Linked DNA regions of Homo sapiens. The protein of the gene in region 2 interacts with the protein of the main gene of each other region in a biochemical or structural test. Each region holds a gene or a part of one and is shown on either strand. Other genes may lie near its edges.

What was found. Proteins that work in one complex are often made in the same cells at the same time.
Region 1: of the proteins of PTPN11 (region 2) and MAP3K5, one has a biochemical effect on the other in vitro, tested with the Homo sapiens proteins (one study listed by BioGRID).

Annotation. Positions count from the first base shown.
Region 1 is NC_000006.12:136,694,978-136,698,477, reverse strand, and holds part of MAP3K5 (mitogen-activated protein kinase kinase kinase 5), read left to right. Parts: intron 1-1,090; coding exon 1,091-1,259; intron 1,260-2,420; coding exon 2,421-2,527; intron 2,528-3,500. UniProt on the Homo sapiens protein: Serine/threonine kinase which acts as an essential component of the MAP kinase signal transduction pathway. Plays an important role in the cascades of cellular responses evoked by changes in the environment.
Region 2 is NC_000012.12:112,484,947-112,488,446, reverse strand, and holds part of PTPN11 (tyrosine-protein phosphatase non-receptor type 11), read right to left. Parts: intron 1,985-3,500; coding exon of another isoform or gene 1,973-1,984; coding exon 1,818-1,972; coding exon of another isoform or gene 1,814-1,817; exon of another isoform or gene 1,524-1,813; intron 5-1,523; coding exon 1-4. UniProt on the Homo sapiens protein: Acts downstream of various receptor and cytoplasmic protein tyrosine kinases to participate in the signal transduction from the cell surface to the nucleus. Positively regulates MAPK signal transduction pathway. Dephosphorylates GAB1, ARHGAP35 and EGFR.

The sequences.
Region 1 (3,500 bases), on a different chromosome or scaffold from region 2:
TTAATAATGCCATTTGGTGATGACAATAAAGTGTTATTCTACATCTTTATTTGTGCATGATATCAGGTGCTCCTGAGATATCAGTATACAGCTAAGAACTAGGGGGAAAATGTTTATTATCCTCCAAGTAGATAAAATAGATGCCACATAATACATTTTATTCACAGAACAGCAACTTGAAATCAGCAAAAAATTAAAAAGTCTACTAACCGCTTTATAGTGATGGTAGAACTAAAAATATATACAAAGCAAGTACAGAAACAATACCAGGATAAATGTCCAGGGACTTCTAGTGTAAGGGCAAGAACAATTCAACTTTAATTAACTCTTAACTCTAATTGTTCTTTCAGTGAAGAACAATTATTTATGTTAATAAATGATAGGCTGAGTCAGGAAGTTAAGGTTATATTATGTTCAAATCATAGGTACATCACGGCCAGTGCCGTGGCTCATGCCTGTAATCCCAGCATTTTGGGAGGCCGAGGTGGGCAGATCACTTGAGATCAGGAGTTCGAGACCAGCCTGGCCAACATGCCGAAACCCTGTCTCTACCAAAAATACAAAAATTAGCCAGGTGTGGTGGTGCACACCTGTAATCCCAGCTACTCACAAGGCTGAGGCAAGAGAATTGCTTGAACCCAGGAGATGGAGGTTGCAGTGAGCCAAGATCATGCCAGTATACTCTAGTCTGGGCAACAGAGTGAGACTCTGTCTCAAAAACAAAAACAACAAACAAACAAAAAATCATAGGTACATCTAATTTATTTAGAACAATTTGTACTGGAAACAGTAAAATGGAAAACAAAGTTTTGGCATTTTAAGTGGTTTTTTGCAGGAAAATTTATTAATATGGAGTACCTTTACCTTTAATTCTTTCTGAAGGCAGAGTAATAAAAGAAATACATTGGCTTCTAAATTTCTTAATAATGCCAGATATGTAAGATATTTATTTAGGCATCTGAATGAACTGAAAACTACAAATGCTTTATAGCTAATGCTGCAATATCATTCATGTCTTTATTAAAATTATTGCTTTTCATTGAAATTGTTTCTAATGTCAAACTCTTTGAAATGTGTGTGTTTTTACCAGCCAGTACTTCCGGGAATCTATACTCAATGACATCAGGAAAGCTCGTAATTTATACACTGGTAAAGAATTGGCAGCTGAGTTGGCAAGAATTCGGCAGCGAGTAGATAATATCGAAGTCTTGACAGCAGATATTGTCATAAATCTGTTACTTTCCTACAGAGATATCCAGGTGAGAAGATGTTTAAAGTGAAATCTTTGTTGTGTAGCATGTTGGAGGGATAAGGGAGTATTAACCTCAAATTTCAGTTTGCTGGTAAGCAGTTCATGTTACTACACGTAATTTTTTATTGACTCTCTTAAGCTTTCCATCCTATAATTTTATGATGAATGAAAAAGACTCATGTGAGTTAACCATCAGTGATTGTGAAAGACTTGTATGGTAAAGGCCTGACTTTTTCCTCCAAAAGAACAAAAAGAAAAATCTGCTGGCACAGCGAACCTGTGGACACAGTCTATTCTACTGTTAGCCTCAGGCACACCTGTCAGTGAAAGCTTTGTTTTGGCAAATAGCAGACATTTTTAGAGCTTTCTGGACATACCTTTTATCCCTTGAAATTGTATTGCTTGAAATTGATAGTGCTGAATCTAACTCGCCTGAAGGAAAAAATATGTAATTGATTACCTACAGAAATAACTTTAAAAATATGTAATGTAAAACACACTAACAGGTTATATCATTTTTATTGACATGTCTTAAAATTTTAAAAATAGGGTAAGTGGAATAAAATCCTCTCCAAGTTAGGGATTTGCTCTTAGGTTTTAATAGTAAAATTTAAATGACATCTGGTTTCTCCTTTCCATTCCTAGCCTTTCAGGTCTGTGTAAAGGCTTCATGTGCTCAAGACAGACTCACATCCATGGAGGGCTGTGGCACATAGGATCCTGTGGCTAGAGTGCTTACTCATGTGACATGAAACTGTGTTGCTACTTGTAACAGAAGTTCAACCCATTGCCTCATGTCCTTGACATTTTTATTTCCCTGAAATTGTTAGAACACTGCATACCGGGAATCTGGCTCTATGGGGAAATAAATCACCCATATTTAGACAGTAGAGCACTATCATGCTTGGTGTTTTTGTTTCTTTTGCTTTTTTAGTTTTTGTTCAACATGGTAACTGTATGTTTCTAATGTTTTTATATATACGATCTAAACCTTTTAGAAGAAAAACAACAAAAACTGTTTATTCTAGGTTCTTCAAAGTGTTCTGTGGATTCTAGTGTCTTTTTAATGTGTTTCTTGAATTCAGATATCTGGTTGTCAAAAGACACGTTATTGTGAGAATTTTCTCCTAATGGTTTAATTCTGTGCTATTCTCATCTAATTTGAAAGGACTATGATTCTATTGTGAAGCTGGTAGAGACTTTAGAAAAACTGCCAACCTTTGATTTGGCCTCCCATCACCATGTGAAGTTTCATTATGCATTTGCACTGAATAGGTAAGAAGAAAAAGTTCCCTTCCAGAATGCGTTAACATATTATTGTGTAACCTGCAATTCTTTACAGAGAATGTGTTCACTGCAGCATTGCAAGAAGTCCCTATTAAAATGTAATATTAGCATATCTGCTTCAGCCCCATGAAATATAGGAAGCATGCATTCTCATTTTTTTCTGATTTATTTTTCAGTAAAAAAAAAGTCGCACACTGTTGGTATATTTAAATTCTTACAGGTTTTCTGCTCTGTCAAAGTTTGTATTTGCTATTCATATTTTTTAGAATTGTAAAAGTTACATGAATATGATGTTATCTTTAAGCAAATACACTCAACACCAGATGGTCATTCACACAAAAGTTTTCACTAGAGTAAGGATGGTTATGTCTAGGTGAACATAGTGTTAGATAGTTATTACCAAGGATAAAAAGGAATTTCTTGGACAGAAGATTTGAAGTAGTAATTGAGAATAGAAATGATACCTTTTTTATAATAGCTTTATTGAAACATATTTCACAGGCTGGGCGTGGTGGCTCACTCCTGCAATCCTAGCACTTTGAGAGGCCAAGGTGGTCGGATTGCCTGAGCTCAGGAGTTCGAGAGCAGCCTGGGCAACACGGTGAAACCCCGTCTCTACTAAAATACAAAAAAATTAGCCAGGTGTGGCAGTGTGCACCTGTAGTTCCGGCTACTCGGGAGGCTGAGGCAGGAGAATCGCTTGAACCTGGGAGGCAGAAGTTGCAGTGAGCCAAGATCATGCCACTGCCCTCCAGCCTGGGCAACAGAGCAAGACTCTGTCTCCAAACAAACAAACTAAATATATTTCATCAAAACAATAAATTTTAAAACATTTTCATCACTCCACAAGGAAACCCTGTACCCATTAGCAGCCCCCCTTCCATTTCCCTCCCAAATCCCCCAACTCTAGGCAACCACGAATCTACTTTCAGTCTTTACAGATTTGCCTATTCTGGACATT
Region 2 (3,500 bases):
AGCACTGCGGGCAGAAGGACAAAAAGCAGGGACAACAGAATCATTCATGGGGGTTTCAGACTCAAAACCAAGCCATTAATATCAACAGAAACAATGTCTACTCTTTGGAGCTATTTATAAAATTGTCTATTTATGTTTGAAAATATGTTGGCAAAAAGCATAGGGCTTTGGAGTCAGCCCAAACCTGCTCTTGGAGTTCAGCTTCTCCAGTACAACGTGCCTGAGGTAAGTCCCTTAACCTCTCTGACCCTTAATTTCTGCATCTGTGAAATGGGGACAACAGCACATACCATACAGAGTGCTGGTTGGACAGAATGAAACAGGAATCATATACAAAAAAATACATCAAAATTACTGAAAGAGGGCCGGGCGCAGTGGCTCTCACCTATAATACCAGCACTTTGGGAGGCCGAGGCAGGAGGATCACTTGGGGCCAGGAGTTCCAGACCAGCCTGGCCAACATAGCAAAACCTCGTCTCTACTAAAAACACAAAAATTAGCCAGGCATGTTGTCACGTACCAGTAATCCCAGCTACTCGGGAGGCTGAGACATGAGAATTGCTTGAACCCAGAAAGCAGAGGTTGCAGTGAGCTAAGATCGCTCAATTGCACTCTAGCCTGGGTGACAGAGTGAGACTCTGTCTCAAAAAATAATAATAATAAAGTTATTGAAATAGAAGAAGTAAATAATTTTAAAAATTAAAAACAAAACAAAACAAAAAACATTGTGCTCAGAGGCTGGCTCAATAAATGGTAGCTTCTTTAACAACTGGACAAATAAACACTTTCACATATATCTACTTGCCCAAGAAATGAATGAGATTTAGGAAACCCAATATTCCCCAGTATAATCATGAAGCCCAAACTGGAGAATCAGCAGCCCACAGACTCATTACAGAGGTCACAGCACAGCTTCCATCAAAGGCCTTGGTGGAAAAGCAGCTGGAATCTTGTGAAGCAAACAAATATAGTGTTAGGGGAGAAATATATTTATGGTAGAAGAGAACAGAATGGGCCGGGCATGGTAGCTCATACCTGTAATCCCAGCACTTTGGAAGGACAAGGCAGGTGGATCACCTGAGGTCAAGGGTTCGAGACCAGCCTGGCCAACATGACAAAACCTTGTCTCTATTAAAATACAAAAATTAGCCGGGCGTAGTGTCAGATGCCTGTAATCCCAGCTACTTGGGAGGCTGAGGCAGGAGAATGGCCTGAACCCGGGAGGCGGAGGTTGCAGTGAGCCAAGATGGCACCACTGCACTCTAGCCTGGGCAACAAAACAAGACTCTGTCTCAAAAACGAAAAAAAAAAAAGAGAGAGAGAGAGAGAGAACAGAATCACAATCAAAGAGATGAATCATAGAAGAGTAGAAGAAAAGAAGGAAAAAGAGAACCAAGCAAAAATGACTTAAGGGATCCTCAAGAGTCAGGCCTATTTCCACCACACCCCCACCACCTCAATACCTACAAAGCAGTCAACAGCTACAAAGCAAACATCATGAAGAATAAGGAGAAACTGCAGAGCCAGGATGAAGTTGTTTAATGCACAACTTCTGGTGGACTCAGAGATAATGCTGACTTAGTCTTTGCTGTTTTAACTGAGCATGTTGCCATGGCCATGGCCAATGGCAGTGCTGTAGGGTCTAGGAGAAATATGCCTTGGGATCAAAATGTCCCTCAATGCAGTTGCTCTATGCCTCAAACAGATATTAAATTCTTCCTACAGTTAAAGAGCTAGGAGTGGGTAGGTAAAAGCAAGCCCTGGGCGCTAGGAGACAGGGACAGGCTGTGGCCTAGAGGGGCAGCAGGAGCTGTCACCTGCAGTGCACCACGACCGGCCCTGCATCCATGATGCTCTCCTGCTTATGGTGCACCTCCTCCAGGAAGTCCAGCACGCCCCCAGGGTCGCTGGGCACGCCGTGGTCCGGCCAGGTCCGAAAGTGGTATTGCCAGACCGTTCTCTCCGTATTCCCCTGGAGTAGAGCCAAGAAAAACCAGAAAAGAATTAAATAAATCAAGAGGTTGAGGAATCACCCGGTTCTAAGCTTTCCTAAATCCAATGGAGAGGAAGAGAATCTCCCCAGGTTCCACTGAAAGGTCCTCTTCGTGAGGTTCCCAGAACTCGTCTCCTTTTGGGCAATCCTGGAGGCAACTCTTTGCCTCTGTCATAAGAACCAAGACGTCTGGCATGGCAATTTGTTCTTTCAGGTAACTATACCCTGAATCATCTCTCTGAATTACCAGCGACAGGTAACATCCCTATTCCCCTGCATCCCTGTGGCACTCAGCTCTGGAGGCAACTGAAACCTCTAGGGATCCAGGTCTCTCCTCCCAGCAGAAGAGGAAGCAGATGGGGAAACAGGCATTCACTTAAGACATTCATTCCTCTTTGTTATTTTTTTGATACTCAACCTTCCCCACCATATAAACACAGACTATAGTATCATTCTTTTTTTTTTTTTTTTCCAAGACAGAGTCTTACTCTGTTGCCCAGGCTGGAGTGCAGTGGCGTGATCTTGGCTCACTGCAACCTCTGCCTCCCGGGTTCAAGCCATTCTCCTGCCTCAGCCTCCCAAGTAGCTGGGATTACAGGCACACATCACCATGCCTGGCTAATTTTTGTATTTTTAGTAGCGATGGGGTTTCTTTCGCCATATTGGCCAGGCTGGTTGCAAACTCCTGACCTCAGGTGATCTGCCTGCCTCGACCTCCCAAAGTGCTGGGATTACAGGCGTGAGCCACCCAGCCTGGCCAGTATTGTTCTATTTTAAACTTATATTTAATGCAAAGCAGATAAGAAAACAGGCTTTGCTATCAGATGACTAGATTTAGGCTCCAATTCCAGGCACTCACACTCACGTGGCCCTTGGGTATCTCTAAACCTCAATTTCTTCATTTTGCAAAATGCAAATAATAATCTCTTTCTCTCTATCATAATGCAATTTTAAGGACTCAGTGAGCTCGCTGAAATACTCAGCCTCTGCCCAGCAAATAGGAAGAGACTCAGCACATTATGGCTATTTTGAGGATAATGATAATTAATAAAGATCAACAATGGCACCAAGGCTACAGAAAACCAAAAAGTATCATGTTTCTGGGTCTATCCAGATGACGTAATTGTAGCAGCACCATTCATTCCTACATCTTCTTCCTATATATGTAGAGACAATCTAAGCTAAGTGACTTTTTTTTTTGAGACAGAGTCTCACTCTGTCATCCAGGCTGGTGCACAGTGACCTGATCACAGCTCACTGCAACCTACGCCTCCCCGATTCAAGCAATTCTTGGGCCTCAGACTCGACTCCCGAGTAGCTGGGACTACAGGCATGTACCACATCCAGCTAATTTTAGTAGAGAAGGAGTTTCGCCATGTTGGCCAGGCTGGTCTTGTACTCCTGACCTCAAGTAATCCACCCACTTCAGCCTCCCAAAGTGCAGGGATTACAGGCATGAGCCACTTTGCCCAGCCTTAAGTGACATTTTTAAAAGGGATGTAAAAGG